Linked DNA regions of Homo sapiens: region 1 is linked to region 2. The links come from fine-mapping of genetic effects on gene expression. A gene starts in region 2. The other region holds a variant in brackets. All regions are shown on one strand. Distances are between the middles of the regions. Region 1 has its middle 4.2 kb from the start of OASL. Region 2 holds the start of C12orf43 (chromosome 12 open reading frame 43).

Region 1 (5,375 bases), 27 kb after region 2:
CTCCACATTGGCTTTGAATTCCGGTCTGCCCTTTGCCACACTTGTAACTTCTCTGCTTCTGTGGTGAGGATGATTGCAAGGGCAAGAACAGATGTAGGGAGATGGTCAGGACACTGCACAGTGGTGCAGGTGAGAGGCAGTGGTGGCCTGGAGTTTAAAACTCCAGTTTTTGTTTTAAAAACAAAAAGTTTTTTAAAAAATAGCTAGGTGTGGTGGTGTCCACCTGTAGCCCCAGCTACTTGGGAGGCTGAGGTGGGAGGACCACTTGAGTCTAGGAGTTTCAGGCTGCAGTGAACTATCATGGTGCCACTGCACTCCAGCCTGGGTGACAGCATGAGACTCTGTCTCCAAATAAAAAATAAAAAAGACTGGCACTCCAGCCAGGAGGATGAGGGTACAGCATAGAGGCTGAGAAGTATAAATAATGCTAGGATATGCCAGGGACTCAAGTGTGCTGTGTGCCTTGGGATGAAAGGGTGAGCAGGGGAGAGGTTAGAAATGTACCTGGACAGGTGGGCAGGATTGAATCTTGGAGTGCTATTCACTCATTCGTTCACTCATTCAACAGATACTTACTGGGCACCTACTCTGTGCCAGGCAGGTGCTGTGGATACAACAGTGAACAAACAGTAGTGAAAAATCCCTACCTGCAGATAGTTTTCTTTCTGGTAGTGGAGACAAACAACAAATAGGATAAATAGGTAAAATTATAGTAAAGAAGACGGTGATAAGTGCTAAGCAGAAAAACAAAGCAAGAGAAGGGATTAAGAGGTTGTGTGTGTGTGTGTGTGTGTGTGTGTGTGTGTGTGTGTGTGTGTTGGGGGCATGTATTTAGGTTTCAGTCTTACATAAGGTGATTAGGGAAGGCCTCCCTGAAAAGGAGACATCTGAGCAAAGACATAAGAAGGTGAAGAGTTTGGGAGGCCAAGACGGGTGGATCACAAGGTCAGGAGATCGAGACCATCCTGGTTAATACGGTGAAACCCCATCTCTACTAAAAGTACAAAAAATTAGCCGGGCGTGGTGGCAGGCACCTGTAGTCCCAGCTATTCGGGACGCTGAGGCAGGAGAATGGCGTGAACCCAGGAGGCAAAGCTTGCAGTGAGCCAAGATTGCACCACTGAACTCCAGCGAGACTCCGTCTCAAAAAAAAAAAAAAAAAAGAAGGTAGAGTGAGCCACGTGTGTAACAGAAGGAAGAAGATTCTTCATGGCAGAAGGAGTGGAAAGTACGAGGACCCTGTGGTGGTACTGCCCGGTGGCAAGTATAAGGAACATCAGTGTGCCTGGAACGGAGTGATCAAGAGCAGAGAGTGGAAGGGAATGCGGTTTAAGTAGTAAAGGGTGGCAAGGCAAATAGATACAGGATCCTTTTTTTTTTTTTTTTTGAGATGGAGTTTCACAATTGTTGCCCAGGCTAGAGTGCAATGGCACAATCTCGGCTCACTGCAACCTCCACCTCCCAGGTTCAAGCGATTCTCCTGCCTCAGCCTCCTGAGCAGCTGGGATTCAAGGTGCCCACCGCCACACCTAGCTGATTTTTGTACTTTTAGTAGAGACGGTGTTTCACCATGTTGGCCAGGCTGGTCTCTAACTCCTGACCTCAGGCGATCCACCCGCCTCGGCCTCCCAAAGTGCTGGGATTACAGGCGTGAGCCACCGCACCCAGCCAGGATATAAGATCTTTTTAAAAAGATTTATTCCATAAACAAGGAGCAGGAGTGGATAGGATCTTGAAGACGACTGTTAGGAGTTGGCTTTACTCTGAATGAAATGGGGAACCACTGGGGAGCATTTTTTGTTGTTCTGTAGGAGTCTGACACCATACATTGGAGAGTTTTGAGTGGAGGAGTGACACGGTCTTTCATTTTAATGGAATTAATCACATTGGCTGCTGGGAGGAAATTAAATTAGAAGCAGAGGGTGGAGTGGAGGTGAAAGTGGAGGCAGAAGTATGGTTAGGAGGCTACTGCAACAGTCCAGGCAAGAGGTCAGTTGACTTGGATCAGAGTGGTAGCAGTGAAATAGTATGTTTTAATTTTTCTGATTTTGGAACATTTCAAACAAAGTGGAATAATACAATGAACCTCCATGTACCATCACCAGTTTCAACAATGATCAACTTATAGACAGTCTGGTTTCAATTCTACCCCCATCCCTAGATTCCCTACTGTGTTATTTGGAAGTGAATCTGGACATCATGTCATTCCGCTGGATATATTTTGACTCCAAGGCTGACAGGTCTTGCTAATGGGTAGAGTATGATGAGAGAGAAAGATCAGAGTCAAGGTCTAAGTCCGGGGCTTTTGGCCTTAGCAACAGAAAGGTTGAACTGCCCTTAACTGAGGTGGGATAGGCTGGGCATGGAGATGAGGAAGGAACTCAGTTTTGGAACTGAAGTTTGGGGTGTCTGTCAGAGACCCAGGTGGAGATATGTGGTGGGGAGTTGGATATGCGAGTCTGTATTACAGGGAGGAGGTCTGGACTTGAGATAAAATGTGGGGGTCACCGGCATAGGGATGTTTAAAGCCATGACACTGAATGAGATCACCAAGGGAGTGATGACACAGCAGGAAGAGAAAAAGACCCAGGACTGAGCCCCAGAGCACTTAATATTATTCGGAGTTTAGGGAGTTGCACGAGTCCAGCAAAGAAGAAGGAAAAGAAGTAGCTAGTGAGGTGGAAGAGAAATCAGGAGTGATGGTTTGAAGGCCAAGTGAAGATATTGTTTTAAGAAAGAGGAAATGGGATGGGCATGGTGGCTCACACCTGAAATCCCAGCACTTTGAAAGTCAAGATGGGAGGATCGCTTGAGCCCAGGAATTCAAGATCAGCCTGGGCAACATGGCAAAACCCCATCTCTACAAAAAAATACAAAAATTAGCCAGGTATGATGGTGAGTGCCCATAGTCCCAGCTACTCAGGAGGCTGAGGTAGGAGGATCACCTCAGTCCAGGGAGGTCGCGGCTGCAGTGAGCCATGATCATGCTACTGCACTCCAGCCTGGGTGACAGAGTGAGACCCTGTCT[CAAAAAAAAAAA/C]AAAAAAAAAAAGGAGAAGAAGAAGAAGAAGAAATGGAAATGATCCACTGGGTTAAAAGAGTGCCAGGTGAATCTGCTTTTTGTCCTGAGGGCAGTGGCAAATTTAGGGGAGTGGCATGTAGTGGAGTTAAGATTGGTCTGGCTGCTTCCATGGTGAGGACGAACCGCAGAGGGCAAGGGCAGATGCAGGGAAATGCATTAGGACACTTCGCAGGGGTGCAGGTGATAAGCAGTGAGGCCCAAGACAAGGCTGGAAGCAGTGCAGGTGGAGAAGAGGGGTTGGATTCTAGGTCTATTTTGGAAGAAGGGTGGGCAGGGCTTCTTGTTGACTATAGGTGAGGGGCAAGGAGAAGACAGGGATGACTCCCAGCTCTCTGGCTTGTGTCCTTGAGTAACTGTTGGAGCCACCATTCCCAAGGAGAGAAGGAGGAGTGGGTATGGCTGTGGGGAGTTCGAGGGGTGCATTTTGGATAATGATTTGGTAGTACCCAAGGATGAGAAGCGAGTGACCTGCTCCATGTAAAGACATATTTGATTTCCCTCAGTATACACGTGGTCACTGGTACCTTGGGGAAGAATGAATCACACCAAAATGAACTAATGTAGAGACAGAGTCTCGTTCCATCTCCCAGGCTGGAGAGCAGTGGTGCAATCATAGCTCACTGCAGCCTCGAACCCCGGCTCAAGCAATCCTCCCACCTCAGCATCCCAAAGTGCTGAGATTGCAGGCATGAACTGCTATGCCTGGCCAAGCCCCAAATTTAAGTGATGAGCAGAGGAAGAGAAATTTAGGCGGTACCTGCTGGGGTGGCCAAAGAGGTGGGCATAACCAGAGTTAAAAAAAAGTCACCCACATTGCTGAATGCTTCTGAAAAGTTAAGAAATACAGACCTGAAAAGTACTCAAGAAAACGACTGGTGATCAAGGTGGGCACAGTTTTAGGCGAGAGGAGGGAGCTGAAGCCAGATTAGGCTGGGTGGGGTCGGGGGCATGGAGACCAGAAGTGCAGATGATTCTTTCAAGGAGTTTGTCCATCATGACACATTCCAATTTAACTTTTCAAACTGGCTAACCCCAAGTGGAAAGCATCACATATTTTAATTACATAAATTATAAAAGTTCTTATATTTCCAGTGTTTGGTAGTACCTGATCCTTCAGCAATACCATATTATGAGGATTTAAAGAGCAGTGACAATTTCACAAAGCTAAGTCAACAACCGGTTAAGACTCCAAACATTTGCCATATGGTTACGATGACTGACAATGAACTTCAAGGCAATATAGAAGTTATTCAAACAATAAACATTCAGACCTTAACCTATTGGTTTTTTATTCGACTTCGTGAAATCTCTGAGGGTTACATAGCTTTCAATTATTTGATCATTAATATGTTGGATGACATTTGAGGATTTCAAAAGGGAACATGAAATCAGTAATGTGTTGGTTTTATGGTTTGTTAAAATACCACCCAGTTGAGCAGGCATCTGCAGGGAGGGAGAAGAGCCAGTGGATAGGAAGGGGCTGAGCTAGGTTTTGAGCAGGAGAAAGAGACACAAAGATGAGTGTTGTCTTAGCTTGGATTCCCCTCAATGCAGAGCATGAGACAAGGGGTTGCATGAAGGTGGTTTGTTCTGGGAAATGATCTCAAGGGGTAAGTGTGGGGGATTAGGAAGCAGAGAAAGCCAATCTGAGGAACTCTTTCTCTTTTTCTTTCTTTCTTTCTTTCTTCTTTCTTTCTTTCTCTTTCTTTCTTTCTTTCTTTCTTTCTTTCTTTCTTCCTTCCTTCCTTCCTTTCTTTCTCTTTCTTTCTGTCATCTCTCTCTCTCTCTTTTCTCTTCCTTTTTTTTTTGATGTTGTCTTGCTCATTCGCCCAGGCTGGAGTGCAGTGGCATGATCACAACTCACTATAACCTCGACCTCTTGGGCTTAAGTGATCCTCCCACCTCAGCCTCCTGAGTAGCTGGGACTACAGGCACAAGCCACCACACCTGGCTAATTTTAAATTGTTTTTTGTTGTTGTTGTTGAGACAGGGTCTCACTATGTTGCCCAAGCTGGTGTCGAACTCCTAGGCTCAAGTGATCCTCCCACCTCAGCCTCCTGAGTAGGTAGAGCTACAGGCACCATGCCTGGTTAATTTTCAGAAAATTGTTTGTAGAGATGGGGTCTTGCTACCTCAGACAGGGCTGAGATAGGAGGATCTCCTGAATGTGGGAAGTCAAGGCTGCAGTGAGCCCTGATCACTCCACTGTACTCCAGCCTGGGCAAGGGAGTGAGACCCTGTTTAAAAAAAGAAAAAATTGTCCATCTGAGAGGTAGAAGAGGGGCCACTGGTTC
Region 2 (5,375 bases):
GCAGAGTGGCACAGCAGCAATGAAGAGCATGGACTTGGGAGTCAGGTAGGCCTGGGTTTACGCCTGGTTCTGCCACTCACAAATTGGACAACCTTGGCCAAGTTATTTTACCATTATGAGAATCAGTTTTCTGTAAAATGGGGCTAATACACCCTCTTGTGGCATTGCTGGGAAGATGAAAACAGACAACAAATACAAAGTGTTTAGAACAGGGGCAAAAAGAAAATTCTCAACTCCTGGTGGCTATTACTAGACGCACTCAAGAATGTAATCTAGGCTGGGTGTGGTGGCTCATGCCTGTAATCTCAGCACTTTGGGAGGCCAAGGTGGGCGGATCACCTGAGGTCATAAGTTCGAGACCAGCCTGGCCAACACGGTGAAACCCTGTCTCTAATAAAAATATAAAAAAAAATTAGCTGGGCCTGGTGGTGGGCACCTGTAATCCCAGCTACTTAGGAGGCTGAGGCAGGAGAATTGCTTGAGCTTGGGAGGCGGAGGTTGCAGGGAGCCAAGATCGCGCCATTGCACTCCAGCCTTGGTAACAGAGCGAGACTGCGTCTCAAAAAGAAAAAAAGAGACCAGGCGCGGTGGCTCACACCTGTAATCCCAGCACTTTGGAAGGCCGAGGCAGGTGGATTGCCTGAGGTCTGGAGTTTGAGACCAGCCTGGCCAACACGGTGAAACCCTGTCTGTACTAAAAATACAAAAAATTAGCTGGGCGTGGTGGCAGGCGCCTGTAATCCCAGCTACTAGGGAGGCTGAGGCAGGAGAATCACTTGAACCCAGGAGGCAGAGGTTGCAGTGAGCTGAGATCGTGCCATTGCACTGCAGCCTGGGCAACAAGAGTGAAACTCCATCTCAAAAAAAAAAAATGCAAAAAAAAAAAAAAAACCCCAAAAAACAAACAAACAAACAAAAAAAACTAGAAGCCGAGCACAGTGGCTCACACCTGTAATCTCAGCACTTTGAAGGTTGAGAAGGGAGGATCACTTGAGCCCAGGAGTTCGAGACCAGCCTGGGCAACATGGCAAAACCCCATCTCTACAAAAAATACAAAAAGTAGCTGGGACTATACATCTGTAGTCTCAGCTACTTGGGAGGCTGAGGTGGGAGGATCATCTGAGTAGGGGGAGGTCGAGGTTGCAGTGAGCCATGATTGTGTCAGCCTCGGTAACAGACTGAGTCCTAGTTTTGAAAAAAAAAAGAGCGAGAATTAGGCAGGAGGAGGAAAGCAGTCCATGTGGAAAGACCAACCACATATTTGCCACCATGTATTGGGCCTTTAAGATGTGCCAAGCACTGTAGATTGCATTATCTCAGTTACTTCTCAACCTTATGGGGTGGGTACTATCACTACCCGCACTGTACAGATGAGGAAATTTAGGTACAGTGAGATTTAAGTACTTTGCTCAAGTTCCCACCGCTAATGAGATGGAAAGGCAGATCTGTAAATAGAACTTGCAGAGAAAACTGTGGTTATGGTACTAGGGGGTGAGAGGGGCAGACTATGGTCTGGAAGCTACCTACAGGAAGTGCAGTATGGCAGGAGGGAAGGAAGGGAGAGGAAGGCAATGGATCACCAAAGGGCTTGTAAGTCCTTTTAAACAAATCCAGCGGTTCTTAACCTTGCTTTGCCATAGCCTTCTCTAACAGCCTGGTGAAGCCCGGTTCTCTTCTCAGAGCAATGTTTTAAATGCATGAAATGCAACATACAGGATTACAAAGAAAACCAATGATACCGAAATTTAATTATCATGATAGTAAACAACCAAACTTGTGATGTATGTGCTTCTTACATCTTAGATATAGAGATGGGTCTAAAAATTAGAGTGGCACATTTTAAATCAGGGATGAGTGTAAATGACTTTTTTCCCCAATATCTTTTTATCAATAAAATGATATATTGATATCTGTATCTGCAAAGATTGTAATGAGATATGAAAATCTGTGACTTCTGTTGGGATAAAGTAACGGCATTGCCAGAACTACTGTGGCTTAGTGCTTGCAAGACGGAAAGAGATGCTAAAATTCAGTCAGAGATGAATAGAAAGCAAAGATGCAACATGTTTTCATTCCAAATTCAAGAACCCTTGGGTTCTATCCATGATTAGGCCCCTTGATGTTGCGGGGCTCTGTATTTATTCCCAGGGCACTAGGGAGTCACGGTCAGAGTGATGTGCTGGGCACTGCTCTTGGCAACAACCTCCAGGGTGGGAGAATGTGTTGGAGGTGGGGAAAGGCTGGGTGCGAGAATACCGGGAGGGGGCTGTTGCAGTTATCTCGAAGAGACGGCAGCCTTCCCAGTGTGGGGCAGTGAGGATAGACCCAAGGAGGCAGAATCAAAAGACATTTGGGTACCTCAGCTTCCCCGACTGGAATAATGAAATACCCTCCCTACTGCACCTGCCCATGCTTTCAATCTGCACTACACCCAGTCCCTGGAGGTCTCTCGGGGAAGGAAGCCGAGTCCCAGTGACTCTCTCCTCACCATCCATCCTCTCAGGCTCCAGGGGAAGATCCCACGCCCCTCAGCCAGTCTCCCCAAACATAGTACCCTACCGGCTCTTGGCTTCCCTGCCACGTGCGGGCGTTGCTCCAAGCCCCAAGCCGGCATTGCCGCCTCGCGGCACCGCTCCAGCTCCTCCGCATCGCTACTGCTGTTACTACTTTCCGAATCGCTCACTGTGCCACTGGGCGCCGCCATCTTGAACCACCGCAAAGGATTGTGGAGAACACCGCCGTTATCAAGCCTCCTTCATGACGTCACGTGAGAGGAGAGGCGCGAGGCATTGTGGGGATTGTAGTTCCAAGACTTGGACCGCCATTGGCCATGAACTGTACTGGGTTGGGGATACCAGGTGGGAATGGGGAGGTGGGCGGTTCTCAAAGGCAAGAGCTAGAAGGGCCTAAGAGATTAACTTCTCCAATCATTTCTTGATGACAGATCTCCAGAGGGGATGGGAATCTCCTAAGGAGTTAATGACAGACCCAGGATTAGTTCCCAGGTTTTGATTCCATGTCATTTATTCTAGTAATTTCCCAGTCCAGCTGGGCCTAAGAAACACCTTAGAGAGCTGGTTAAACTGCAGACTTTTGGGTCTCACAGAAAATACTAACAGAATCAGAATCTCTGATAGGTGGAATCCAGGAATCTGTATTTCCTTTAATAGCCTAGGGCCTTACTACTTAAGAGTGTAGTCCATGAGCCAGCAGCATTGGTAACACCTGGGAGCTCGTTAGAAATGCAGAATCCAGGCTGGGCACGGTGGCTCACGCCTGTAATCCCAACACTTTGGGGGGCTGAGGCAGGCAGATCACAAGGTCAGGAGTTCGAGACCAGCCTGGCCAACATAGTGAAACCCCATCTCTACTAAAAATACAAAAATTAGCTGGGCATGGTGGCACGCACCTGTAGTCCCAGCTACTCAGGAGGCTGAGGCAGGAAAATCACTTGAACCTGGGAGGTGGAGGTTGAGGTGAGCCAAGATCGTGCCACTGCACTCCAGCCTGGGCAACAGACTGAGACTCTGTCTCGAAAAAAAAAAAAGAGAAATGCAGAATCCTGTCCGGGCACGGTGGCTCACATCTGTAATCCCAACACTTTGTGAGGCCGAGGCGGGCAGATCATGAGGTCAGGAGTTCGAGACTAGCCTGACCAACATGGTGAAACCCCATCTCTACTAAAAATACAAAAATTAGCCAGGCAATACTGACTCCCAGGACCCATCCAAGACCAAAAAATTAGAATCTCTGTGGTTAAAATACCTCACAGTGAAGGATGAACAAAATCACTTTACTTTTGTGTGTGGAATGCTGTTTCATGTTTTATCTTTGAAGACAGGTATGTCAAAACTTTACTAAAATAAACTCTCTGGCCTTGAGCTTTTTCTATTTCAAAGAAGAGGAAGGTGACTGATATGGTCTGAATGTGTTCCTCCAAAATTCATATGTTAAAATTGACACCATAAAATAAATAACAGAGAGACTGACTCTCCAAAATAAAGCGTTTATTCCAGAATTGCAAGGAATTGCAATTTGAGATATGCATGCTATAGTGGACTATAGGCACATTAAAAGAGGTTGTGGCAACGAGAAAAGACAAAGTCCACATAAGCTTCTTTAAAACAAGTACCGTTGATCACAGGAGCCTGTTGCAGGAGTTGGCTTTAGCTTATTGTGGAGACACCCACTGTTAGGCAAATATTCTTATGCAAGTGGTTTATCTATAATACTGCGGATTTTAGGAACTTCTTGAGATAATTTTTGTGACAGGCATTTGTTAGGGTTTGACATAAGTGACTCCATTTTGATACTGATAATTTCCAAAAAGTCCTTACTCCCAAGGTGATGGTATTAGGAGGTGGGACCTCTGGGAAGTAATTAGTGAAAGGGTCTTGTGTTGGTTCGAACCCCAAGAGCGTGGCCAACAGACAACATGAGGCAGTGTGTGTGCAGGTGGGCTGAGGCTTAAAATGGCGTCAGCACCAAATGAGGACGGGGCAGGGGTTTTGTAGTCTCCTGTAAACAGGAAGTTTCTCAGTCTGTTGTAACCGCTACATTGTACCCGGATGACGTCTCTCTCGGTCTTCAGGGGGTAGGTGTCTTCTGGCCCGCTCTCTTCCCGCTTCTGCTATCTTGCTGACACATGCTGCTGGCGCGAGTGGCCTTGCGCCTTGGGACCGGGCCCAAGGAGGGAGGGGAGGGAGGGGTCATTCATTCTCTTAAGCTTTCAGGCCCCACGGAGAATCTTTCAATTACATAATGGGTCCTGAGCCCTCATGAACTGGATCAATGCCTTCATAAAAGAGACCCCAGAGGCCAGGCATGGTGGCTCACAACTGTAATCCCAGCACTGTGGGAGGCCAAGACAGGTGGATCACAAGGTCAGGAGTTCGAGACTAGCCTGGCCAAGATGGTGAAACCCCGTCTCTACTAAAAATAAAAAAAAAATTAGCTGGGCACAGTGGTAGGTGCCTGTAGTCCCAGCTACTCGGGAGGCTGAGGCAGGAGAATCGCTTGAACCTCGGAGGCAGAGGTTGCAGGGAGCTGAGATCATGCCAATGCACTCTAGCCTGGGTGACAGAGCGAGACTCCATCTCAAAAAAAAAAAAAAAAAAAAAAAGAAGCGATCCTAGAGACACCTTTGCCTCTTCTACCATGTGAAGACTTAGTGAGAAGCTGCCATCTGTGAATCAGGAAGAGGTCCTCACCAGACACCAAATCTGCCAGTGTCTTGACTTGGACTTCCCAGCCTCCAGAGCTGTAAGAAATAAATGGTTATTGTTCATGAGCCATCCAGTGTATGGTATTTTGTTTTAGCAGCCCAGATGGACTAAGACATTGCATTTTTCATTCTTTTTTTTATTTTAAACAAG

What was found. PIP is the estimated chance that this variant, and not a neighbour inherited with it, causes the effect. A credible set is the group of variants that fine-mapping cannot tell apart.
Region 1: its variant is the best candidate, but not a certain one, in a credible set for the expression of C12orf43 in whole blood (INTERVAL, PIP 0.52).

The regions. Positions count from the first base shown.
Region 1 is chr12:121,040,740-121,046,114 of GRCh38, forward strand. No RefSeq gene overlaps it. Among named protein-coding and RNA genes, the nearest start is that of OASL, 4.2 kb to the left of the region's middle. The variant CAAAAAAAAAAA/C (reference allele first, on the strand shown) is at 3,029.
Region 2 is chr12:121,013,771-121,019,145 of GRCh38, forward strand. It overlaps C12orf43 (chromosome 12 open reading frame 43), which reads right to left and starts at 2,717. Exons shown (of 6, transcript NM_022895.3): 1 at 2,560-2,717. The coding sequence starts at 2,704. OASL (2'-5'-oligoadenylate synthetase like) reads right to left here. Exons shown (of 6, transcript NM_003733.4): 6 at 5,341-5,375. RefSeq lists enhancers at 1,896-2,411, 2,383-2,892 and a silencer at 2,620-2,813.